Homo sapiens: one gene and its partners. The protein of the gene in region 1 purifies or fractionates together with the protein of each later gene. This does not show direct contact. Each region holds a gene or a part of one and is shown in the gene's direction. Other genes may lie near its edges.

Region 1 (3,500 bases):
AAGCAACAATCACTTGCAGTGTATCTGACAAAATGCTATACATGATTTTCTAAAAGTATTTTGATCACTCCAGAAAGAAATCAGAATAAAGCTGCATACCCCAAATCCTAGAAAATTCACAAATATTTTGCTCAAGTTCAGGCTCTCTCAGCTTCTCTTTTCTCTTTAACTTTTGCCTCATACAGAGGCAATCTTGATGACAAAAGATTGGGCTCAATTTTTGTTTTTCTTGTGTAGAAAAGCAACACCTCTGTTTCGGACTACTGTTCAGTAGACAAAAAGCATCCCAGCTTTCGAAATGAGAGTCCAAATTGGGTTACCACTGAGATTTTAAATTATGATGTGAAATTGGAGAAGGTGAACTGTACAGGGCCAGACAAATAATAGAGCCCACTCTCTGGGCAGTTGCATGCAGTCTTGCTGGGTGCTGAGCTGAGAGACTGAGAGCCGCTTTTGAGACGTGTTTTGAGGCATATCTTCCTTAAATTTTTGCTGGTGTCTGTTTTTTAGAAGTTTTGCCATTAGCATTTTTCACTTTGAGTATCTAGCCATGGAGAATGCTCTAAAAAATACAAGGAGACAGGGGGATGCTTTATCTATTTGGCTTAGTCACTGGTTCAGGGTGAAGTTTCATAATTTATTCTGATAATCTGGAGGGGATGACCTCCTTCACAGTACTGTTAAAGCCTTCCTTGAACAAGCTCATTTCACTATATAACTTCCTAAAGACAAGGCTGATTATTTAAGGATTTCAGAGATATCATTTGGGGAATAACTCACCAGGTAGAGAAAGTTTGACCTGATATGTTAACAGGCACAACAAGAACTTATTTCAATGCTTTCTCACCATCTGCCCCTTCTCTGAGAGTTTAGCCTTTCTTAGGATACTTCCTTTTCCAGGCTAGAAAAGATTGATTGTATTCATATCCCAAAGTAAAGGCTCCTCCAATTCTATCAGATGTGGAGGCAACAGAAAATGACTCATGTTATTTTTCTCTCACTTCACAGCATCAAGAACTCTTCTTGTTTATGTGGGGGCCATGGTGGATTAGCTTGAGGAACTGTCAAATTAAAATGAAAGGAAAGCAAGTTGGGGCAAGAAAATTCTCACTCTGAATGTGAAAGAAAATAGCAGTGTTCTTCTCTCTGGCAAAGATTTGTGTACTGTTGGGGGAAGATTCATGTTATTTCTCAGGTAGACTTTACTTTTTGAGATTCTGTGTGTGTGTGTGTGTGTGTGTGTGTATGTGTGTGTGTGTGTGTGTATTTTGCCTGGTGGGGGGTTAAAGGCAGATAGAATGTAGTTGTTTATGAGTTTATACTTTCTCTTTAGCATAATAGATGCCCTGTTTATTTTCTCAGAATGTGACAATAAAATTAGGAAAGGAGAGGAATTCAGAGGCCCATGTTGCAGTTCATGGCAAAGTTTTACCCAAATATTTCCTTCAGAAACATTTAGTCATAGCAAGCCATATAAATTATTGTCTGCAACTGGTATCAGAAAAAGAAATCAGTAGGTGGGGACTGTAGACCCCAATGGTGCATCTGTTTACAATCTTTCTTTTCCAAGGTTTTAAGGTTCATGAATAACATGAGGGAATTTTGGGAGAGCTACCACATCAGTACTTTGGCACGCATTAACTGTTCCACAGGAAAACTAGGGTTGCTTCAGGGCTATTTTTGTTTGAAATGACACACATACAAAAAAAAAAAAAGACTTTTGGAACATGTTTTGAGGCCTGTCACCTGAAATCAGCCTTTGCTGAAAGAGTATTTAGTTTGATAAGCGGGATTTCTTGCTTCTCGCATCCCAGAGTGTAAATTCTGCAGCGAAGCCTGGGTGTATGTTTTCAGCACCAGGGACAGCAAACAACCCCCTGAATTGAAGGGGCCCGCTATCCTGATTGACCTCCCAGACTAGGAAGGGCAGTTGTTTTGTTTTCCTTTATTTCCTATCTACCGGAGCCTCAACTTGGAAGACTTTATTCTTAAGGTTCTTACATCTTTCATTTATTACCAAGCCTAGCTTAGCTGTCTCTGTCACATTCTTGACCTCCTAACAAATGGGTTTGGAGTAACACTCCCAGCTCTCCTGGCTCAGAGAAGTAGAAAGAAACACACTAGACTTCATTTGAAGGGCATGCTTTAGAGTAGGCTCCCCCTACACAAGTCTTTATAACATACCACTGACTTGTAAACCCCTAAATGAAGGACTGCTTATACACAATCATTTTCCTTTTAACATTTCTGCACATTTCTCACAATGTACAAGTCTATGTTTGACTCAGTGTGCATCTGGAGGCAATGTTTCACAGCAGTTGAGCAGAAGCTATGAAGTTTGGGGACAGAAAAGGTCCCAGTGATGCTGCTGTTATTCATTTTGGAGACTCATTGGGGGCACTTCTCTGATTCTCAGCATCCACCCTTCAACCCTGAGTGCTCTTTAACAGCTGTTTTTGCCTTAAACAATCACAATAAGAATGCAAATGACTCCTTGTGGCATTCTTCAGGCCAGACTGAAGGGTGTACTGAGAAAACAAGGGTAGCAGAAGCACATGTTGTCACATTGCTTTGTGATTGGCCAGTTTTTATATAGCACAATGACACACAGATATCATCTTAGAGTCATCATTGTCTACTCTTAACTAATTGTCAGCATCTTCTCCACTCATGTCAGGATGAATCCTGTGTTGGGAAGGCAAGTCAGTCACTGCAGGTTTCATCATAAATATTGCCTTCTATCTGACAGATGTTAGAAAACCTCCATTTTGAATGCCTCTGTACCATCCAAGGCTCTGAATTTCCCCTATATCTTATCCCTTTCTTTCCATTCCCTTTCCATGTTGCTTATCATAACATCCATAACATTTAGTGGTGTAAGAAAATAAGGGGTTTCTTTTAGGAATAAATGAGGTGGAAAAAGTAGGACAGAGCCAGATCTCAGAGGAGCAAGTTCAGTGGAACGATGATTTCTAACTTGGGAGTGGGTCTAAGATGTAGCCATCCATTCCTTCCATTCCTTGTCCTCTTGAGTGAATCTCATTCCAGTGCTCACACTTGCCCTGCAAAAAAGGCCATGGCACAAGATTCTCTAGATTATTTGTATGAAGACTGGAGGTGAGCAGCATCCAACACCTCTGTTAGAGTTCTTTAGAATAGAGGAGTTTTGTCTTATATTTTAATCCAGGAACCTTCCCATATTTAAAAAGTTTAGAAATAATATGTACAGAAAGGACCTATGGGGATAGGAAAGCTTAATAATACAAGTTATTTTCCCTTAGAACAGAGGGGAAGGAGCTGCAAAGTGACTGCTAATGGAGGAACGATCTGCTGGCTGGGGGAAATGTGGCCTGAGACTAGAGATGCAGAGCAGGCATCTCTAGAAGGAGAGATGATGCCAATAGAAGCCCCAGGAGGGAACTGGCCAGCGAATACAATTTTATAAAGATTCTCAGTACTTTTTCTGAAAAAATTCCTAAAATTTTCAAGGGCGCGTCTAG
Region 2 (3,500 bases), on another chromosome or scaffold:
TTTTTTATTGCTGTGTTGATTTCTTACATTTTAAAATTCTCTTGGTTCATAATTTTTTTTAAAGTCAGCCTTACACGTGCCATGAAATTTACCCTTTTTAGTGTGCAACTCTGAGTTTCCACAAAGATACACAAGGTCTTGCAAGCACCACCATAGTCAAGATACAGAACATTTTCAATACCTTCAAGTTCATGAATTTGTAAGCAGTCTGGATAGCATTATTAATGTTGCTGTGATCTGTCAAGATATTAATACTTGGTTCAGAAAAGGGAGAAAAATTACTTTTCTTCAGTGTAAACATTCAAACTGTAGAAGTTTTTGTGGAATATAGAGTGAAATACTTCTATATGTCTAAATAATAACTATAAAAATGATGTGAATATTTATTATTAAAGAATCAAAATTTTAAAAAACTTTTTTCCCTCTCCAACAGGTATTCAGAAACGTGAAGCCAGCAATTGTTTCGCAATTCGGCATTTTGAAAACAAATTTGCCGTGGAAACTTTAATTTGTTCTTGAACAGTCAAGAAAAACATTATTGAGGAAAATTAATATCACAGCATAACCCCACCCTTTACATTTTGTGCAGTGATTATTTTTTAAAGTCTTCTTTCATGTAAGTAGCAAACAGGGCTTTACTATCTTTTCATCTCATTAATTCAATTAAAACCATTACCTTAAAATTTTTTTCTTTCGAAGTGTGGTGTCTTTTATATTTGAATTAGTAACTGTATGAAGTCATAGATAATAGTACATGTCACCTTAGGTAGTAGGAAGAATTACAATTTCTTTAAATCATTTATCTGGATTTTTATGTTTTATTAGCATTTTCAAGAAGACGGATTATCTAGAGAATAATCATATATATGCATACGTAAAAATGGACCACAGTGACTTATTTGTAGTTGTTAGTTGCCCTGCTACCTAGTTTGTTAGTGCATTTGAGCACACATTTTAATTTTCCTCTAATTAAAATGTGCAGTATTTTCAGTGTCAAATATATTTAACTATTTAGAGAATGATTTCCACCTTTATGTTTTAATATCCTAGGCATCTGCTGTAATAATATTTTAGAAAATGTTTGGAATTTAAGAAATAACTTGTGTTACTAATTTGTATAACCCATATCTGTGCAATGGAATATAAATATCACAAAGTTGTTTAACTAGACTGCGTGTTGTTTTTCCCGTATAATAAAACCAAAGAATAGTTTGGTTCTTCAAATCTTAAGAGAATCCACATAAAAGAAGAAACTATTTTTTAAAAATTCACTTCTATATATACAATGAGTAAAATCACAGATTTTTTCTTTAAATAAAAATAAGTCATTTTAATAACTAAACCAGATTCTTTGTGGATACTATTAAAGTAACATTTAAGCCTCAACCTTGAATGATGTTGTTTAATATAAAATGCTTTTATTTTTGATGGAAAGGCAATCAAAGCCTAAAGTTTCCAAGGAACGTAAAATAACTGTGCTTCTCTGAGAATGCCCGCCTCACAAGTGGAACATTTTGAGTTAATAATGATGATTTTTATGTTTCTAAGGTTGCTTCCTCTCTGAAATAATTCAGAATCCACCCCCATTTAATAAAATACCTATGATTCATTTCACCTCAAGTTCCTAAGACAAAAAATTTCAATTCTGACTTTAGGAGGTCAGAGTTTTTAAAGCTTCCAACTCTTAAAGGATTTAGTCTAGAAACCAATTCTAATTCAAAAGGATATTATTTACTCATGGCTTTTCATTTCATTTCAGTAATATTGTCAGAACTTTAAGTCAGTGAGTTGGGTATTCAGGAATTAACAATTTTAGAAGACAATATGTTTCAATAAAATGAGAATTGGTTTTTCCTACTTTCCAGGCTCTAAAATTACATGAATTTTCAGGGAGCTGTGAACATTTAGGAGCACATTATTCATTCAGCATCTTTTATATGCCCAACATATGATATTGTGTTGAAGATATATCTGCAAAGAAGAAAAAAAGCCACTGCCGTCGTGGAGACTCACAATCTAGGAAAAGAGAGGGACAGCAAACAACTCATTACAATACATTGGGATCAGTAGTGTGAGGGAGAAAAACAGGTCTAGGTTCTTTGGAAAACATTTAGGAGAGTCAATGAGACTTTCAGAATGTGAAGTGCATGGGATTAGGTCATGGAAGAAGACCATGTATGTCATCTTGAGGACTTCATTCTGTAGACCATGGGCCACTATTGAAGTTTTGCATTTTGGAAGGAGCTTATTAGTTTGTTTTCCTGTTGATTATAGTAGTAATGCAGTATCAGGGTAGCTGAACTGCAATAATAATCCCAACATCTCACTGGCTTCATGCAGTAGGAATATGCTTTCATCACAGTCCAGTATGGCAGGCAACCTCCAGACTCCCAGGGACCCAAACTTACACTTTACTAAATGTAATTCTTTCATTTGAATTTTTAAAGGTTTTTGTATAATCATCTTAGTAAAACATTTGATAATTCTTCACAACATTTGCAATCATTGATTTGGCCAGATTGGTCTAACATGGTACCCATGATTTTACTTCATTTCCAGTACTATTCTGATAATTTCCTTTAGAGTCAATTGAGTAGAGAGTACCCCTCTCACCTAAGCTTAGTCATGTCCCAGGAATTTTGGAACTCCAACTGAGATTTCAGGCTCATTATTCATTCTAGGGCTGAATGAATAATGTGCCCTTTGAACCCTTGTGCCATGCTGGAAACTGTGGTCTTGGTGTGGCATGGAAAAACCAGAGGGTGAGGGATGTGGATGAGAAGATGACAGAGAATCAGACATGCAGAGAGGACTGCCAGGTCTCCCAGTGGGTTCCAGGGAGACTCAGCTATCCTTCCCTCTTCTTGAGTTCTGTCTTAGTCCATTCGGGCTACTATAACAAAATACCATAGACTGAGTGGCTTTAAACAACAGAAGCTTGTTTCTCACAGTTCCAGAAGCTGGAAAGTTCAAGATCAAGTCACCTGCAGATTCAGTGTCTGATGAGGTCCTCCTTCCTCACAGAAAGCTCTCTTCTCTCTGTGACCTTATATCACAGATGACTCTGGGTTCCTCTTACAAGGACACTAGTTCCATTCATGGGGGTTCCACTCTCATGACCTAACACCTCTCAAAGGCCCCATTTCCTAATACTGTCACCTTGGGGGTAAGGATTTCAACATGAATTCTGGGGGGACACAAACATTCAAACCATAGCAAGTTCCATAATGCACCCCATCATATGTGTGTGTGTGTGTATTTATTTATTTATCTAAGATAGCTCTAGTTTGCTGCTTTGCAACACATTCTGCCCCTATTGCATTGGTTTAAAAAAAAAGTACAGAAGTCAAGATGAGACTATATAAATCTTGACAAGTTGTTGGCCGTGATTGCTCTTTTGTGATGCAGGAGTGAGAATCTGGAGAATCTGGCTTAAGAGGTGGCTGAGAATTAAAATAATAGGCATGAAAATGCTTCATACAGCTCTGTACAGTTGTTGA
Region 3 (3,500 bases), on another chromosome or scaffold:
TGGGATTACAGGCATGCACCACCACGCCCGGGTAATTTTTTGTATTTTTAGTAGAGACGGGGTTTCTCCATGTTGACCAGGCTGGTCTCCAGCTCCTGGCCTTAGGTGATCCGCCTGCCTCAGCTTCCCAAAGTGCTGGGATTACAGACATGAGCCACCTCACCCAGCCCAGATAATCCTTTTACACACTGTTTAAAATTTTCAATTTTCCTGGAGATAGGGTCTCCTGTCGCCCAGCGGGTAAATGCAGTGGTGCGATTATAGCTCACTGCAGCCTCAGACACCTGGGCTGAAGCCTGATTCTTGAGCCTCCCAAGTAGCTGGGACTATAGGTGTGAGCCATCATGCTTTGCCCTTTTTTTTTTTTTTTTTTTTTTTTGAGGCAGAGTCTCACTCTGTCACCTAGGCTGGAATGTAGTAGTGGCACGATCATAGCTCATTATAACCTCAAACTCCTGGTTTCAAGCAATCTTCCCGAGTAGTCAGGACTACAGGCATGCCCTGCCATGCCCAACTAATTAAAAAAAAATTTTTTTTTATACACATAGGGTCTCACTATGTTACTCAAGCTAGTCTCCAATTCCTGGCCTTAAGAGATTTTCCCAAAGCATTAGGATTATAGGCATGAGCCACCTCACCCAGCTGAAACAGATAATTCTTTTTTTTTTTTTCCTTGAGATGGAGTTTTGCTCTTGTCAGCCAGGCTGGAGTGCAATGGCGCGATCTCGGCTCGCTGTAACCTCTGCCTCCCGGGGTCAAGCGATTCTCCTGTCTCAGCTTCCCCAGTAGCTGGGATTACAGGCGTCCACCACCACACTCGGCTAATTTTTTGTATTTTAGTAGAGATGGGTTTTCGCCATGTTGGTCAGGCTGGTCTTGAACTCCTGACCTCAGGTGATCTGCCCACCTCAGCCTCCCAAAGTGCTGTGATTACAGGTGTGAGCCACTGCTCCTGGCTTGAAACAGATAATTCTTTATATTCAACCTGTTGTCAAAATTTTTAGAAACATTTTCCCAGTTCCTTGTATAAGTATACTTTGTATAACTTCTGGCAAACCATAATTATGAACTCACATTACTATAGTACTATAATACTGCAGTAAGGGATCTTGCGTTTCAGTAATGTCACTCATCCAGTTTTCCTCCCCTTTCTCTTACCCCATCTCCCTCCCAGTCTCATGGTTTCTGTTGTCAATCCTCTTTCTCCTTACACAAGGCAAGAGGTTTTCTTACCAATAGATCAGAACTGTGAAGGACTGCCCGACATGATCTGATATGGTTGTTCTTCATTTTGGGCTGTAGTATTTTAAAGTAGAGGTTTGCTCTGATGGTCCCATCACTGCTTGCCATTGTCTTTCCCTTTGCTCTAGCTATCAGGGGATGTTGCTTTAAGTTTGTTCCCCAGGCTTTACTGCCAAGAGGGAAATTCATACCCACTTTAACAAGGTGTGAAGCTTATCTTACAGTTGCTAATGCCTCACTGACCTTTTGGAAAGGTCATAGTTACTCTTCAAGTTGAGCGATTTTTCTCCCCCAAGAGCTAATTAAAGTTTCTTGTTTCTGATATGCTCTCCTTGGCAAATGTTTGAAAGTCTAGTATCAGAGCAGCTGTGATCCTGCATCTATCAAAATTTATAACTTCCTAGAGAAGTTTTCATTCTGGCATTATTCCTGGCCTTAACACTAGAATGCCCTGTTGAAAGCATACAGTAACATTTATTATACTCATTCTGGTTGTCTGTTTGCCCTAGCTCACTGGACGTTGGTGGTGATTGGCATCTGTCAGGACTTGGTGGTCCTGGTGCCTCCTGTTTTTATTTTTCTTTTTGTCCTGCTCAAACAGATATTTCTTATTCATGCCGTCTTCTAATGAGTCATTTGGATTCATTATTGCCATAAATCATTTGGAGGAGTGTTTTCATGATTTACTAAGTAGATCTTTTAAAGAAGATTTTATTATGAAATATGCAAACATTTTAAGCAATTTTTTAATTAAAAAAAATTCGACCTCCAAGATTAAATCATTAGATGTGGTTAACACTGTTTCTGGATTGGTAAGTTTCCACAAAAAGAGGTTTTTAAATTTTTAACCACATAGACCACTCTTTACCATATTCATTATTCTTAGTATTCATTGTGGTGAGTTCTCTCTTTTTACCACGTTTATAGTTGTTGGATTGGGAAGTGCAGTGTGACTCTTACTTTGTAGTTTTTAAATCTTAACAAGTTTATAGTTGTATGAGCTAAAAGTTTAAACCTCTGCCCCATTTTCTTGGGGCAGTGTTCTGTGACCAGTTACATTTTTGGACTTAGGTTATCTCTGAAGTGCTGTGTTGCTGTATAAATGTCATATGGAGGATAACCTACAAAATACACTTCGGATCTCCCAACAGCTTTGCGGTTCTGAAACAGCCTTCAGTAGTACCACTGAAAAGAAACGGGGAATTAACTGGTTTTTTGTTTCTTTTATAGAGATGAGGGTCTCGCTATGTTGCCCAGGCTGGTCTCAAGCTCCTGGCATGAAATGATCCTCCTGCCTTGGCCTCCCAAAGTGCCGGGATTATAGGCATGAGCCACTGTTCCCGGCCTAGAATTAAACAGTTTATATATGCTCTAAAATTTAAGTCAGTGATCAAGTTGTTTATACTGTGGATTTATGTCACATGGATATTACTTGATATGAATAATAACTAAATGAACATGACTGTTAGATGATCACCTTTTACTTTAATCAAGAATTGAAGTTTTATTTTTTCTAAATAGATACATATAAAATGAATGGAATTTATTCCCTCTCCCCAGATTTTATTTGGATTCTAAAATGGAATTATTACATCAAAAGATAAGGTATTTTTAAGAAGTATAGTTGTTTTTTTGAGACTGAGTCTTGCTCTAACGCCCAGGCTGGTGTGCAGTGGTGCGATCTCAGCTCACTGCAACCTTTGCCTCCCAGGTTCAAGCGATTCTCCTGCCTCAGCTTCCCAACTAGCTAGGACTGCAGGTGTGCGCCACCACACCTGGCTAATTTTTTGTGTTTCTAGTAGAGGTGGTTTCACCTTGTTGGCCAGGGTGGTCTCGAATTCCTGACCTCAGGCGATCTACCTGTCTCGGCCTCCCAAAGTGCTGGGATTACAGACTTGAACCACCACACCCAGCCATGAAGTATAGTTTTTTGTTTGTTTTTTGAGTTTTGCTTTTGTTGCCCAGGCTGGAGTGCAATGGTGCGATCTTGGCTCACCGCAACCTCTGCCTCCCGGGTTCAAGCGATTCTCCTGCCTCAGCCTCCTGAGTAGCTGGGATTACAGGCATGCACCACCACACACTGCTAATTTTGTAATTTTAGTAGAGATAGGGTTTCTTCGTGTTGGTCAGGCTGGTCTCGAGCTCCAGACCTCAGGTGATCCCCCCGCCTTGGCCTCCCAAAGTGCTGGAATTACAGGCGTGAGCCATCGCACCCGGCTTTTTTTTTTGTTTTGAGACCGAGTCTTGCTCTGTTGCCC
Region 4 (3,981 bases), on another chromosome or scaffold:
GGGGGGCGGGCCTGGAGCCGCGGCTGGGGGCGCGGGGGGCCGGGGGCCCGGGCTCATCGCCGCCCGCGGAAGCCTCGTGCTACCCTGGAGGGACGCGTGGACGCGGCGCCTGCGGAGGCTGCAGCGACGCGAACGGCGGGGGCGCTGCAGCGCCGCCTGAGCCCGCCGGCTGGGCAGGGCGGCCGCTGCTCCCACATCTAGGCGCACGTTCACCCTGTGCCTTCGCCTGCCAAGGAGTCCTTGCTCGCGTCGCGCGTGTCGCCACCTGGGCCGCCGCCCCGTCCCCGCCGGCAGCTCCCTCGGTACCTCCCGTCTGGCCCTGGGGGGATGTGACCGGCGCAGCGACAGCCCGCCCCGCACAGAGGCAGATGATATGGCACACCCGGAGGACCCCATGGTCTCCCGCCCTCTGGCTGTCGGCCCTGTCCCAGGGGCACTGGGATACCCGGAAGGCTGTGAATCCTTCGTGATGCCGGGCCCTCTCGGGGATCTCAGATCATCCCCGGGGCCGCTGTGATGCACCCCCACCTGTGCGGCGACCCGCCAGGGAGCGCACTGACCTCCCCAAAGACTGTGGCCACCGCAGGCGCCTTGGACCCCCATGGGGGGACAGGGCGTCCCCTGCCTCCTGCAGCCCCACGAGGGCGGCGGCCTTGGCCCCTGCGGGCTGGGCGTCCGCGTCCGGGCGCCCCGCGGCGTCTGCTGCCGGGTCCCGTAACTTTCTTGGCCGCCTGTGTCCCCGTCTGCCGGCTCCGTCCGGCCGTCCCTCTCTCTGCCGCGTCTCTGACCCTCGGCGCCACAGCTCCTCAGCTCAGGGCCCGTCCCAGAACCTCCTTCCAGCCCTTCTCCCCCGACTCGGGAAGGGACGTCGTGCCCACGCGGTTCCGGATCCACGCGTGACCCGGCCGGACCGCGACTCCGACAGGCGGCTGTCCGGGCCCCCGATGCCCTCGGCAGGGCCGTGCCACCCCCCGCCCCCCTTGGCTTGTCCCCCCGGGACCGCACTGCCGTTGCCTCCTCTCCGCACGGGACCGGTTCCCGGCCGGCCCCAGCTTCCGCCGCTGCGGCCGCCGACCGTCAGCGCGCATGCCCAGAGCCGGGCAGGCCGGAGCCCCGCGGGCTCTCCGGGGTGGGCACAGGGCGACAGCTCGGCGGGGGCGGGGCCGAGCACGCGCGTGCGCAGAAAGGCCGGCGCGGCAGGCTGAGGAGAAAGCGGCGCGCGGAGGTGGGTGCGCTCGGGGCGTGCGGGGGGCGCGCGGCGGGGTGGCGGGTGGCGGGGCCGGGTCCCCGCTGTCACCGCGGTCGGCGCGTGCTGGGGGCGGGAGCGTGGGGGCCGGGCTGCGGGCCCCATTCGAGGCGGGGATCCCCGGCCACGCGCGGGTTGGGGGCTCCAGAGCCCGGCACCGCCCGGCGCTGCAGCTGCGGCTTGGCCTACGGGAGGGGGCGCAGGAGCGGGACCCCCTGGGCGCGAGGCCCGATCCCCGCCCGGTCGCTGGCCCGCGGCCCGGCCCAGGGCATGGTGTCGTCTGGAAGAGTGACTGTGTCACTGTTTCCTTGGGGCGCTTTCCGTCTCCGCAGGGTCGGAAATCCTCTTGGGGGCTCGGTGAGATTGCAACAGATTCTGATACGCCCTGCCCTGTGGACCTGCAGCGGCCCCGGGCCCCGCCCCGCCCCGCCCAGGGATGACACACGCCCCCACCGACCACCCGCTTGGGGGTCCGCCAGCCCCCGGCCCTGTCCAGTGGGGGGCCCCTCTGGGTGCGCCGTGCCAGGCGGCCGCTGTCCTTCGGGCCCTGGGAGGTGGAAGCCAGGGACTCCCAGCCCTGAGCCAGCACAGCGGAGGGGAGAGCCGGCCCCACCTGGGCTGGGCTGCACCTGTTCCCGCCCCCTCCAGGCGGGAGTCCCCGCGGCCTGGCCACAGGCCTTCTTTGATGGCCGTGCCCCGCAGGGAAACGCGCTGTGGCCCCCGGGTTACTGCTTGCGGGGGTGATATTAAAGGTCAAAGGTTGTCTAAAAGCCACCTGGGTGGTGTGGAGGTGCAGGTGGGCTGTTAGGTTGGTGGCTGTGGTTGTGAAGCCGATGTCACTGTCTTTACCCAGCAGCTTATTCCAGAAAGGGGGCGTCAGCCTGCCCTTCCAGTGCCGATAGAAGCACTAGCGGGTGATTTTTCCCTGTTTTGCTGTGTTTGCTCTGGAGTCACCAGGTGACTTCCAGGCAGTGTGCAGAAGGAACCGTCCCATTATTTGGCACGTGGGCCGTTTCCTCCACCCGAGGTCCAGGGCTCCGTCTTCACAGTCTGTCCTCAGCACACAGTAGGCACCTGTAGATGGCACACGTGGCGTTTCCTCCGCCCGAGGGCCAGGGCTCTGTCTTCAGCACACAGTAGGCACCTGTAAATGTTTGCTCAGTTGCGGCGAAGACAAGCAGTCAGGTTCTTTTCATTTTAAGGAACACACACTGGGAAAAAAAACCAATCCAGATTAGAGAAGATCAGAAAATCTTACGAAGATTTTACAGTTACTGTTCCTAGCCTGTGGCGTGACCCCTGCGTGCACCGCCTTTTATTCTGAGGGTTGATCCTCATCTAATCTGAACACTCAGATAGAGGCTTTACATGGAGGACTTATTGGGGAGTGCTTGCTCTACTTAGAAGCCTGTCTTTCCCTGTGAAGAGGGCGGGAGCCACGCTGTTCATCTTTGCTTCCCCACAGCCTGGCCAGGGCCGGACCAGAGGTTTTCTCTACATGATGGTTGAAGTGGATCAAGGTCCTTTTGTCGGAGTGATAGATGTCAACTATTGCAGTGGCTTTCCACTGGGTTGAGGGTGACCTTCCGAGATGCAGAAGTAATCTAGGCAAGGTTTTCATAACAACAATAAATTTGGCCACCCAGGGTCTGTGAAGTCACCTGTAGGGTAGCCTTACTAGCTCTCGCTGACCACACCTGCCAGGAGTGTCCAGCAGGCTCGAGTGACCTTGGGCATGCAGTGTTGCTCTTAATTATCTACAGATTGAGCCAAGCTCAGAAAACATATTAAATGTTTGCCTTTAGATGGTTTCTGGTTTAAAGTACATAAGGACAATGAAGCAGGTTACAAAAAAAGCACTTAACATTTACCCTGTTCAATGTTTTACCTGTCTGAGCATACCTTTTCTGTTATGACAACTCTGTAAATGGAAGAAAGAAGTCCTTTTCAACTCAAAGCAGCAATTTCAGTGGCTGTTTCAAACATTGCCTTTCAATTGGAGATAAAATCAAAGAAACAAAACCTCAGGCTTTTTACTGAGGACCAACTTGAATTCATTATTCAATGATTTTCTGTATCCTTTCAACATGTGTTTGTTAAGCGAGGTGCGGTGGCTCACGCCTGCAATCCCAACACTTTGGGAGGCTGAGGTGGAAGGATCGCATGAGCCCAGGAGTTCAAGACCACCTTGGGCAACATAGGGAGGTCTCGTCTCTATAAAAAATTAGCCAAGTATGGTGGCATGTGCCTGTGGTCCCAGCTACTTGGGAAGCTGAGGCAGAAGGATCACTTGAGCCTGGGAGCTCAAGACTGCAGTGAGCTGTGATTGTGCCACTGCACTCAAGCCAGGGCAACAGAGTGAGACCCTGTCTCTGAAAAACAAAACAATAAAAATGCATTTATTGAATTCACACTTCATAGGAGGCACCATGCCGTGTGTTCTGTGGATTTGGTGTTAAGACTTGGTCTCTGCCCTTGAGCTTATAGTGCAGTGAGGAGACAGGAGAATAAACACATGGTAGAAGCTCCCACAGAGGTGGACAGAGCCTTCTGTGGGCGCAAAGGCGTGGCATCCAGCTGGATTGTGGTGGGGGTGGGGCTCTGAGATGGACTTGAGCTTCATTTTGAAGGATGATCAGGACCGGCAAGAACAAGTGAGGGAAAGTGCCTTCCCCCGAAGGGACAGTGGATATAAAGTGACAGGCGTGGTTCCTGCCCACCAGCTCTTGGGAGAA
Region 5 (3,500 bases), on another chromosome or scaffold:
TACCTTGAACTCCAGACACCTACATTCACTTATTGTTGAGCACACACTTACTGGGTTCCTACTATATGCTGGGTGCTAAGGATAGAAAAGCAGATATTTTATGTCTAAAGAAGTTACCAGCCTATCACTGACATATCCCCTAGGTCTTCAAATTCATTATGTACAAATTCACTCCTCTTCTTCTGTTTTCCTTCTCACTGGCTAGTCACTCAGGACAGATATTTTGGAGCCTCTTTACTCTCATGTCATTTGCCTCTCTTTCCTGATAGGGTAAGAAATCCTCTTGGTTCTACTTCCTTGGTATCTCCCTCAGCTCTAGCCTTCCTCTCTCTATCTCCGTTAGCAGTGTCTTAGTTCACGCTTTAATGTCTCTCACCTAAATCCTTTCAGTGGACTCCTATTTTCCCTCCTCCAGTCCTGCTATACCTTTCTGATCCGTTATTAAAGTTTCCCATGTCAGAAAGAACTCGCATGTAAGCATAGCCTGCCACTGGGAAAGCCAGCAAAGGCTTCGCTTACCAGGGAGCAGTATGACATCAAATCAACAGACTTCATTTCTGAAATTAAATTCATTGCTCTTTTCCTTTTCTTTTTAAACTATTTTTTTTTTTTTTTTTGAGATGAAGTCTTGATCTGTTGCCCAGGCCAGAGTACAGTGGCACGATCTTTCAGCTCAATGCAACCTCCACCTCCAGGTTCAAGCAATTCTCTTGCCTCAGTCTCCCAAGTAGCTGGGGTTACAGGTGCCTGCCACCACACCCGGCTAATTTTTGTATTTTTAGTAGAGAGTGGGTTTTGCCATATTGGCCAGGCTGGTCTCGAACTCCTAGACTCAAGTGATCCATCCACCTCAGCCTCCCAAAGGCTGGGATTACAGGCATGAGCCACCACGCCCAGCCCTCCTTTCCATTTTTAAAAGATCTGTTTCTATATATGAACCTGTATTTATATGTACATTTATAGAGAGAAATACAAGATAATCATATAAAGAATACTGGAAGATTCTCTACCAAAAGTTAACTGGTTCTCTAGGAATTATGGATTATGTATTTTTTGTTTATCTAAATGTATATTTTTCTGATTTCTCAAACTTGTCTACAGTGGACATTAATTTTATAACATGAAAAAAATGTCTTTTTTTAAGTAAAAATTAAAAAATTCATTGAAAAATTGAAAAACACCAAAAAGTAGAGAGAAGTAATATGTCACAAATTCTGCTGTTTCAGTTGTCTGTTGCTGTATAACAACCCACACCAGAACTTAATGGCTTAACACAGTAACTATTTATTATTTCTCATAATCCTGGAGTCAGGAATTCAGGCCCATCTCCACTGAGCAGTTCTTGGTTGGTGTCAGATGAAGCCACTCACTCATCTGCAGTCAGCTGGTAGCTGGGCTGTACTACATGGTCCAAGAAGTCCTCTCTTGAGTTTGTGATGCCTCATTGCTCCTCCATGTGGCCTCTCCCTGTCTTTCTGGAGTGCCTCATTATTCATTTGTTGGTTTGAGCTGCACTGGCCCACAGCCCAGATGGGAGCTGCCAGGCATGATAGAGCTGCCCAGAATTGGCATGGCTTCTCTTGGTTAAGGCAAGTTGCCTGGCCAGACCAAAGTCAAGGGGAGGGGAAAAGGATTCTACCTCTGGATGGATGGAGCCATATGCACATACAGAGAGGGAAGAAATTGATGGCAGCCATCTTTGGGGCCTGTTGCTCCCATCTAAGAAACCACTGTTAATATTTTTGCATTTTTTTTTTTCACAGATGTAAAGATTTCATTGTTTTGGTAGATTTTGCTTTACATTGTTATAGTTATTGCTGTGTAATTATTTTCTAAATATAAATATTTTCATGTTAATCATATCCTTAGGAATCATAGTTTAATGGCAATACAGTATTTATTATATGTTAGGTATTTTCATCAACTATGCCCATATTGTTGGACATTGAAGTTTTTTCTAATATTTCACCAGTATAAATAATGTCATGATGAGAAACTCGCTGCATAAAACTTACTCTTTGTTTCCTTTTGGGGATCAGGGGGTATGAACTTTTTAAAGTTTATCAATATATAACTGTCAGATTATTTTCCAAAAGTGTTATGCTAATTTAAAGTCACACTGTATCTACAAACTTAATTCCGTATTTCAGTTTCACAAAGTTAAATCATTTCCCTTTGGCATGTTTTCCTCTCATTTTACTACACAAAGCTATTCAATGTTTATAAGAGTAGTAAAATGAGATAAATATCCTGAACACTCTTTCTACTCTTATTTTTATCATAAATATTCAAAGTATGACTTAGTTCCTTTACTGATGCTAATAAATCTCTACCCAGTTGCTGACCTTTTCCCTCTCTACTTGTAGACAGCCGGACAAGTGGAAAGATGGGTAGATCCAAGGCTCCACCAACATGTTCTCTTTCTCCCTGAGTCAGGCAGCCCGTGGCTGGGAAAGGAGAGTCACGAGCTGAAACATAAGCTTTTTATTGAGCCAAAAATGGGGAGCATCTTAATACCCTCGTTATGTTGACCAAATGCTGTTTGGTTTATTGAGGGATTTTAGACCCTCTTGAACATTTCTTGTCCAGAAGGCAATTCATTATCTCAGTGACTTTCTAGCACTTTTATTAATGTGAATGTCATTTAGCATGTTAATGTCAAATCAGAAACTTTTTTTTTGCTTTCTTTTGCTTTTAATCTGGCACAAGTTTCTCATGAGAATATTTACTGAAATATGTTGATTTTTGAAGATGTTTTCCTTAGCATGCCTTACGTTTTATAAAGATTTATATGTTGAAGACTTGTGTGCCAGGCACATCATCTCATTTAATCTTCACAAAAAAACTGAGTTGGGTTCTCTTCTTCCTTCCATTTTACAGATGAGGAGACGGAAGCACAGAGTAGTTAATTAATTTGCTCATCATCACACAAGTAGAAGAGCTAGGATTTGAATGATCAGTTTGGATTCAGAGCCTGAAAACCCTTAACCACTATCCTATATTGCCTTCCAAAAACTTAATTTATAAGTGTTGTAATGAAGCAATGAATATTATTTATAACTTCTTTTTTTTTTTTTTGAGATGGAGTCTCGCTCTGTCGCCCAGGCTGGAGTGCAGGGGTGCTATCTCGGCTCACTGCAAGCTCCGCCTCCTGGGTTCATGCCATTCTCCTGCCTCAGCCTCCCAAGTAGCAGGGATTACAGGCGCCCGCCACCACGCCCGGCTAATTTTTTTTTTTTTTGTATTTTCAGTAGAGACGGGGTTTCACCATGTTAGCCAAGATGGTCTCGATCTCCTGACCTCATAATCCGCCTGGTTCGGCCTCCCAAAGTGCTGGGATTACAGGTGTGAGCCACTGTGCCCGGCCTATTTGTAACTTCTATAAGTGGATAATGAAATGTATCAAAGTACACCTCATCATTCTATTATGGTATCATTGTAGTATATGCATTTAGAATAGACTAGCGTAATACTACTCTGACTCCTCGATGATTTTTAGC
Region 6 (3,500 bases), on another chromosome or scaffold:
AAAAGAGTTGAGGTCTCACTCTGTTACCTAGGCTGGAGTGTAGTGGCGAGATCACAGCTCACTGCAGTCTCAAACTCTTGGGCTCAAGCAGTTTTCCTGCCTCAACCTCAACTTCCTGAGTAGCTGGGACTACAGGTTCCCCACTGCACCCAGAAGATTCAATTTTTAATGGGGCGGGGGGGTGTTATTCTTGTGAATGTGTTTTTCCACATGGTTAGTTGATCTGATGTTTCTGCCAGGGGCATGAGTTTTGGAGAGTCCTAATCCACCGTGTTGCTGACTTCTGTCTTCAAGGGGGATGTTATTAAACGGACCGAGCCTCAGAACCTAAGAGCAGCAATTCCTTGGGAAGGGCTGGAACCAGGAGATAAAACCCACCAGGAAGTCATGAACTCCCACCTGACTCCTCCTCTGCCAGCCTTCCTCCTTTGCATCTTAACTGGGTGCCCTAAAAGTTACCCTAGGCACCAAGCTGTCCTCCACCTGCTTTCTTAGTCCCCCTCCATTCTAGGTGGAAGTGTCTTTTCCTTTGGAGGAAGCGTACTCTTTTCTGTTTGGCCTTAAGGATAGTGCCTATTTTTTTGAGATAGTGTCTCACTTTGTTGCCCAGGCTGGAGTGCAATGGTGCAATCACGGTTCACTGCAGCCTCAACCTCAACCTCCGTGCTCAAGCAATCCTCCCACCTCAGCCTCCCAAGTAGCTGGAACTATAGGCGTGCACCACCATTCTTGGTTAATTTTTTTGTATTTTTCTTGTGATGGGGTTTCACCATGTTGCCCAGGCTGGTCTTGAACTCATGAACTCAAGCAGTCCACCTGCCTTGGCCTCCCAAAGTCCTGGGATTACAGGTGTGAGCCACCATACTCAGCCTAGGGCAGTGTCTTTTTAATTAAAGAAAAAAAAAGTAAGACAAACACATAAAAAAAAGATACAAAGTGAGGGCCAGGCACGGTGGCTCACGCTTGTAATCCCAGCACTTTGGGAGGCTGAGGCAGACGGATCACGAGGTCAAGAGATCGAGACCATCCTGGCAAACGTGGTGAAACCCTGTCTCTACTAAAAATACAAAAAAATTAGCTGGGCGTGGTGGTGCATGTCTTTAGTCCCAACTACTCGGGAGGCTGAGGCAGGAGAATCACTTGAACCCGAGAGGCAGAGGTTGCAGTGAGCCGAGATCGCGCCACTGCACTCCAGCCTGGCGACAGAGCAAGACTCCCGTCTCAAAAAAAAAAAAAAAGATACAAAGTGAATACTACATTTTTCCTTGTCCCTCCCTAATCCCCCTTTTTGAGGTAGTTAGTCCTTATTAACAGTTTTGTGGGCCAGGCCCAGTGGCTCATGCCTGTAATCCCAGTATTTTGGGAGGTCGAAGTGGGAGGATCGCTTGAGGCCAGGAGTTTGAAAGCAGCCTGGGCAACATAGCAAGACCCTGTCTCTACAAAAACTTAAAACAATTTGCCAGGACTGGTGGTGTGCACCTGTAGACCCAGCTACTGTGGAGGCTGAGGCAGGAGGATTGCTTCAACCTGGGAGGTTGAGGCTGCAGTGAGCTAGGATTGCACCACTGCTATTGTCGTTGCTGTTACTTCTGTTACTCCGGTTGTTCTGGCTTGCAGAAAACCTTTCGATGAAGGTAAGGGTAGGAAGCATAAATTCTCTACGAGGTAATGTCCCCTGAGGAGAGAGGTGAAGTGTGAATCTGTGAAGAATCCAGGGTGCCTGTGAGGTCAAGCGAGGATCAACACAAACATTTTCCCAGCATGCGCGACGGCGGGAGAGTTCGTGAGACTTTTGGAAGCACTTCACGCCCTACACTTAGCATTCAGTTTGGTCATCTCATCCCTCTTCTAGGTGCTAGTCACAGGCCCACCCCAACCTCATAGGATGTGTTTGCACACAGGGCCACTTAATAAATGTTATGGCTGCCTTATTTGCTGTGAACTCTTGTCTGTATTCCTGGGCCTTGGTAGACCTGGGATGCCCAGTGGCTCTGCCTTTCACTGTAGGTTTTGAGTGATGAGGTGAAGAGGAAGCAGTACGATGCCTACGGCTCTGCAGGCTTCGATCCTGGGGCCAGCGGCTCCCAGCATAGCTACTGGAAGGGAGGCCCCACTGTGGACCCCGAGGAGCTGTTCAGGAAGATCTTTGGCGAGTTCTCATCCTCTTCATTTGGAGATTTCCAGACCGTGTTTGATCAGCCTCAGGAAGTAAGTTCCTCACTTGGAAGAATTATTCAAATTTTAGACTAAGTATGGGTCAAACAAATTTTTTTATCAGTTTCTGTTTCTCAGAAAGGCAAGGCAGCTTAAATGGAGTGATCTGGAGGCAGCCATTTTAGTAGAAAATAATTTCAGTATTTGAAAAATCGCATAGGTAGTAATGAGTATGTCCATTCTGATGGTATTCTTAACAGTTGCATAATGAGGTAGCACCTAAGGCTTTCAGAGCCCATGAGGGTGTGAGTGTTGTCTCTCATCTGCTACAGTATTCCAGGAGAGTTCTGTCCGGTGGGAAGGCACTGCTGATCCTCTCTCATTTATGTCCTTATAAGACACTGTCAGAGTGGAAGAGAGAGGGGATATATTTATGATCTAAATTATGATTGTGGATCATTCAGGCTGTTTTTAAGTGCCATGTACGAGTATTTATCTGTGAACATTTTCAGTCTGTTGAAAGTACGTTTTCATTTAAGTCATACATTATCTCTTAAAAATCCCAAAGAGTAGGGCAGAATTCGTTCAGTGAGTCCTACCTATGCTTACTTGGCAGAGTGCAAGTAAGTACAGTGGTGAAAGAGTGACTGAAAATGTGGGCCAGTACCCTCCTTTCCCTTTAGAGCCGAGCGTCAGTTTTGGTCGTTGCAAACAAAAGTTGACAGGCTGTCCCTTGGTTTCTTTAGTACTTCATGGAGTTGACATTCAATCAAGCTGCAAAGGGGGTCAACAAGGAGTTCACCGTGAACATCATGGACACGTGTGAGCGCTGCAACGGCAAGGGGAACGAGCCCGGCACCAAGGTGCAGCATTGCCACTACTGTGGCGGCTCCGGCATGGTAAGGCTCTGCCCGAGACTCCACCTCCCACGGCTTGCACCACTGACTGAGAAGAGCTGGTTGTGGCACTGCTCCCAGAGAACGTATGCTGGGAATTGGGGGAGTTGGTGAACTCAGCCTGGCTGTCTTTCCCCCGTGACCCTGAGGAGACGAGCCTGTGCTCCTCTTTCCCTGATACCACAGGCTCAGCAACCAGAGCACAGCAGCTCCGGGGGCGGGGCGGGGGATTGCATCCAGTTGTCACTTTCTTCTTTATTTTTCTAACAATTGCTTTGGTAATTCAAGGGGAAATAATCTTTTTTAAATGTACTGTTCAGCTCCCAGGAGTCTTCAGGTACTTCTGTAGACAGGCGGTATCATATTTTTCAGTGTCGTGTGGTCAAGTTGATGATCTGGAGTGCAGAAGTTTGTGTGTTCTAGAAAATCAGATGAACAGATTGAGGCCCT
Region 7 (2,531 bases), on another chromosome or scaffold:
GTTCAAGACCAGCCTAACCAATATGGTGAAACCCTGTCTCTATTAAAAATACAAAAATTAGCTGGGCATTGTGGTGTGCACCTGTAATCCCAACTACTCGGGAGGCTGAGACAGGAGAATTGCTTGAACCCAGGAGGCGGAGGTTGCAGTGAACCGAGATCGCAACACTGCACTCCAGCCTGGGCGACAGAGTGAGACTCCATCTCAAAAAAGAGAACAGTCAGGCTATGTTGGATTTGAATCCCAGCCCTCCCACCTCCTGGCTCTGTGCCTTGAGCCTCAGTTTACCCATCTGTAAAAAGGGGCTGTTAATAGTACCTACCTCATAGACTTAGAAGGAGAATTGCATTGTAGGCTATTATGTATTATTACCATGTATTATCATCTATATAGAAATTATATATTTATATTTATGTATTTACATTGATATCCATTACATATCATTTCATATATATATACTATACATATTACATATGTGTATATATTTTATATATATATATGGTACGTACCTGGGTGTGGTGCCATGCACCTGTAGTCCCAGCTACTGGGGAGGCTGAGGCATGAGGCTAGCTGGAACCCAAGAATTCAAGGCTGCAGTGAGCTATGATTGCACCACTGCACTCCAGACTAGGCAACAGAGTAAGACCCCATTTCTAAAAAACAATTTTTTTAAATAAGCAGGTAAAGTACTTAGAGCAGTGAGTGCTGGCTCTTCTCAGCTACACGTTAAAGGAAGCCTGGCCTAGCCCACAGCATGCAGGGACCTGGGCCACTTAGTTCAACATGGCCTGGTGAGAATGAGCCCTGACAGCCCTTCTGTTCTTGTCCCACAGTGAAGCCCTCAGTGAGCTGCCACTGAGTCGGGAGCCCAGAGGAACGGCGTGAAGCCACTGGACCCTCTCCCGGGACCTCCTGCTGGCTCCTCCTGCCCAGCTTCCTATGCAAGGCTTTGTGTTTTCAGGAAAGGGCCTAGCTTCTGTGTGGCCCACAGAGTTCACTGCCTGTGAGACTTAGCACCAAGTGCTGAGGCTGGAAGAAAAACGCACACCAGACGGGCAACAAACAGTCTGGGTCCCCAGCTCGCTCTTGGTACTTGGGACCCCAGTGCCTCGTTGAGGGCGCCATTCTGAAGAAAGGAACTGCAGCGCCGATTTGAGGGTGGAGATATAGATAATAATAATATTAATAATAATAATGGCCACATGGATCGAACACTCATGATGTGCCAAGTGCTGTGCTAAGTGCTTTACGAACATTCGTCATATCAGGATGACCTCGAGAGCTGAGGCTCTAGCCACCTAAAACCACGTGCCCAAACCCACCAGTTTAAAACGGTGTGTGTTCGGAGGGGTGAAAGCATTAAGAAGCCCAGTGCCCTCCTGGAGTGAGACAAGGGCTCGGCCTTAAGGAGCTGAAGAGTCTGGGTAGCTTGTTTAGGGTACAAGAAGCCTGTTCTGTCCAGCTTCAGTGACACAAGCTGCTTTAGCTAAAGTCCCGCGGGTTCCGGCATGGCTAGGCTGAGAGCAGGGATCTACCTGGCTTCTCAGTTCTTTGGTTGGAAGGAGCAGGAAATCAGCTCCTATTCTCCAGTGGAGAGATCTGGCCTCAGCTTGGGCTAGAGATGCCAAGGCCTGTGCCAGGTTCCCTGTGCCCTCCTCGAGGTGGGCAGCCATCACCAGCCACAGTTAAGCCAAGCCCCCCAACATGTATTCCATCGTGCTGGTAGAAGAGTCTTTGCTGTTGCTCCCGAAAGCCGTGCTCTCCAGCCTGGCTGCCAGGGAGGGTGGGCCTCTTGGTTCCAGGCTCTTGAAATAGTGCAGCCTTTTCTTCCTATCTCTGTGGCTTTCAGCTCTGCTTCCTTGGTTATTAGGAGAATAGATGGGTGATGTCTTTCCTTATGTTGCTTTTTCAACATAGCAGAATTAATGTAGGGAGCTAAATCCAGTGGTGTGTGTGAATGCAGAAGGGAATGCACCCCACATTCCCATGATGGAAGTCTGCGTAACCAATAAATTGTGCCTTTCTCACTCAGCTGTGTGTGTGGCGTTTTTCCTGACATTCGGAGCCATAGATATCCTTCTAGATGGCAGGGCCTGCACAGGGCACAACTGAGGCAGTTAAGGGTTCATGGTGGTGATGGATGGTGTTGCCCTGACCAGATGGGACACCATAGAGCCAGTTTGAAGCTGGTCCTGGACTAGGAACAGGAGTAAACCGCACCCCTTCCTTCCTTCCACCCACACATCTTCCTGGCACTCCAAGCACCCTGCGGCCACCCAGAGGCCACGAGCATCCCCTCCAAACCTGCTGTCCTGCAGCCCACAAGTTCCTCCCAGCTTTTATAAGTTTTCACCACTTAAGCTGCAGTGACAAAAAAAACACGTCAACACTCCCCAGGTCATGGGTTCCCAGGTCAGGGAGTAGACCCCCGCCCAGAGGCACAGTGCGGGCCACTTCCACGGCGCCTCTGCCCCACCTTGGGCTGCCTGGCCTCTGCTTCTGCTCACAGACACCAGGCCTGGGCTCCAGGC

What was found.
Region 2: the proteins of NTRK3 (region 1) and ITM2B purify together in Homo sapiens (affinity purification with mass spectrometry; one large-scale study listed by BioGRID and IntAct). This does not show direct contact.
Region 3: the proteins of NTRK3 (region 1) and ATP2A2 purify together in Homo sapiens (affinity purification with mass spectrometry; one large-scale study listed by BioGRID and IntAct). This does not show direct contact.
Region 4: the proteins of NTRK3 (region 1) and TBC1D24 purify together in Homo sapiens (affinity purification with mass spectrometry; 2 studies listed by BioGRID and IntAct, with this or other methods). This does not show direct contact.
Region 5: the proteins of NTRK3 (region 1) and PTCD2 purify together in Homo sapiens (affinity purification with mass spectrometry; 2 studies listed by BioGRID and IntAct, with this or other methods). This does not show direct contact.
Region 6: the proteins of NTRK3 (region 1) and DNAJA3 purify together in Homo sapiens (affinity purification with mass spectrometry; one large-scale study listed by BioGRID and IntAct). This does not show direct contact.
Region 7: the proteins of NTRK3 (region 1) and INPP5D purify together in Homo sapiens (affinity purification with mass spectrometry; one large-scale study listed by BioGRID and IntAct). This does not show direct contact.

Annotation. Positions count from the first base shown.
Region 1 is NC_000015.10:87,861,740-87,865,239, reverse strand, and holds part of NTRK3 (NT-3 growth factor receptor isoform a precursor), read left to right. Parts: 3' UTR 1-3,500. UniProt on the Homo sapiens protein: Receptor tyrosine kinase involved in nervous system and probably heart development.
Region 2 is NC_000013.11:48,260,706-48,264,205, forward strand, and holds part of ITM2B (integral membrane protein 2B), read left to right. Parts: intron 1-433; coding exon 434-519; 3' UTR 520-3,500. UniProt on the Homo sapiens protein: Plays a regulatory role in the processing of the amyloid-beta A4 precursor protein (APP) and acts as an inhibitor of the amyloid-beta peptide aggregation and fibrils deposition. Plays a role in the induction of neurite outgrowth.
Region 3 is NC_000012.12:110,287,747-110,291,246, forward strand, and holds part of ATP2A2 (sarcoplasmic/endoplasmic reticulum calcium ATPase 2), read left to right. Parts: intron 1-3,500.
Region 4 is NC_000016.10:2,473,946-2,477,926, forward strand, and holds the start of TBC1D24 (TBC1 domain family member 24), read left to right. Parts: upstream 1-1,181; 5' UTR 1,182-1,225; intron 1,226-3,981. Other genes in the region: NTN3 (netrin-3 precursor), read left to right, coding at 1-160. UniProt on the Homo sapiens protein: May act as a GTPase-activating protein for Rab family protein(s). Involved in neuronal projections development, probably through a negative modulation of ARF6 function. Involved in the regulation of synaptic vesicle trafficking.
Region 5 is NC_000005.10:72,326,873-72,330,372, forward strand, and holds part of PTCD2 (pentatricopeptide repeat-containing protein 2, mitochondrial), read left to right. Parts: intron 1-3,500. UniProt on the Homo sapiens protein: Involved in mitochondrial RNA maturation and mitochondrial respiratory chain function.
Region 6 is NC_000016.10:4,439,368-4,442,867, forward strand, and holds part of DNAJA3 (dnaJ homolog subfamily A member 3, mitochondrial), read left to right. Parts: intron 1-2,007; coding exon 2,008-2,208; intron 2,209-2,900; coding exon 2,901-3,053; intron 3,054-3,500. UniProt on the Homo sapiens protein: Modulates apoptotic signal transduction or effector structures within the mitochondrial matrix. Affect cytochrome C release from the mitochondria and caspase 3 activation, but not caspase 8 activation.
Region 7 is NC_000002.12:233,205,873-233,208,403, forward strand, and holds the end of INPP5D (phosphatidylinositol 3,4,5-trisphosphate 5-phosphatase 1), read left to right. Parts: intron 1-833; coding exon 834-836; coding exon of another isoform or gene 837-885; 3' UTR 886-2,031; downstream 2,032-2,531. UniProt on the Homo sapiens protein: Phosphatidylinositol (PtdIns) phosphatase that specifically hydrolyzes the 5-phosphate of phosphatidylinositol-3,4,5-trisphosphate (PtdIns(3,4,5)P3) to produce PtdIns(3,4)P2, thereby negatively regulating the PI3K (phosphoinositide 3-kinase) pathways.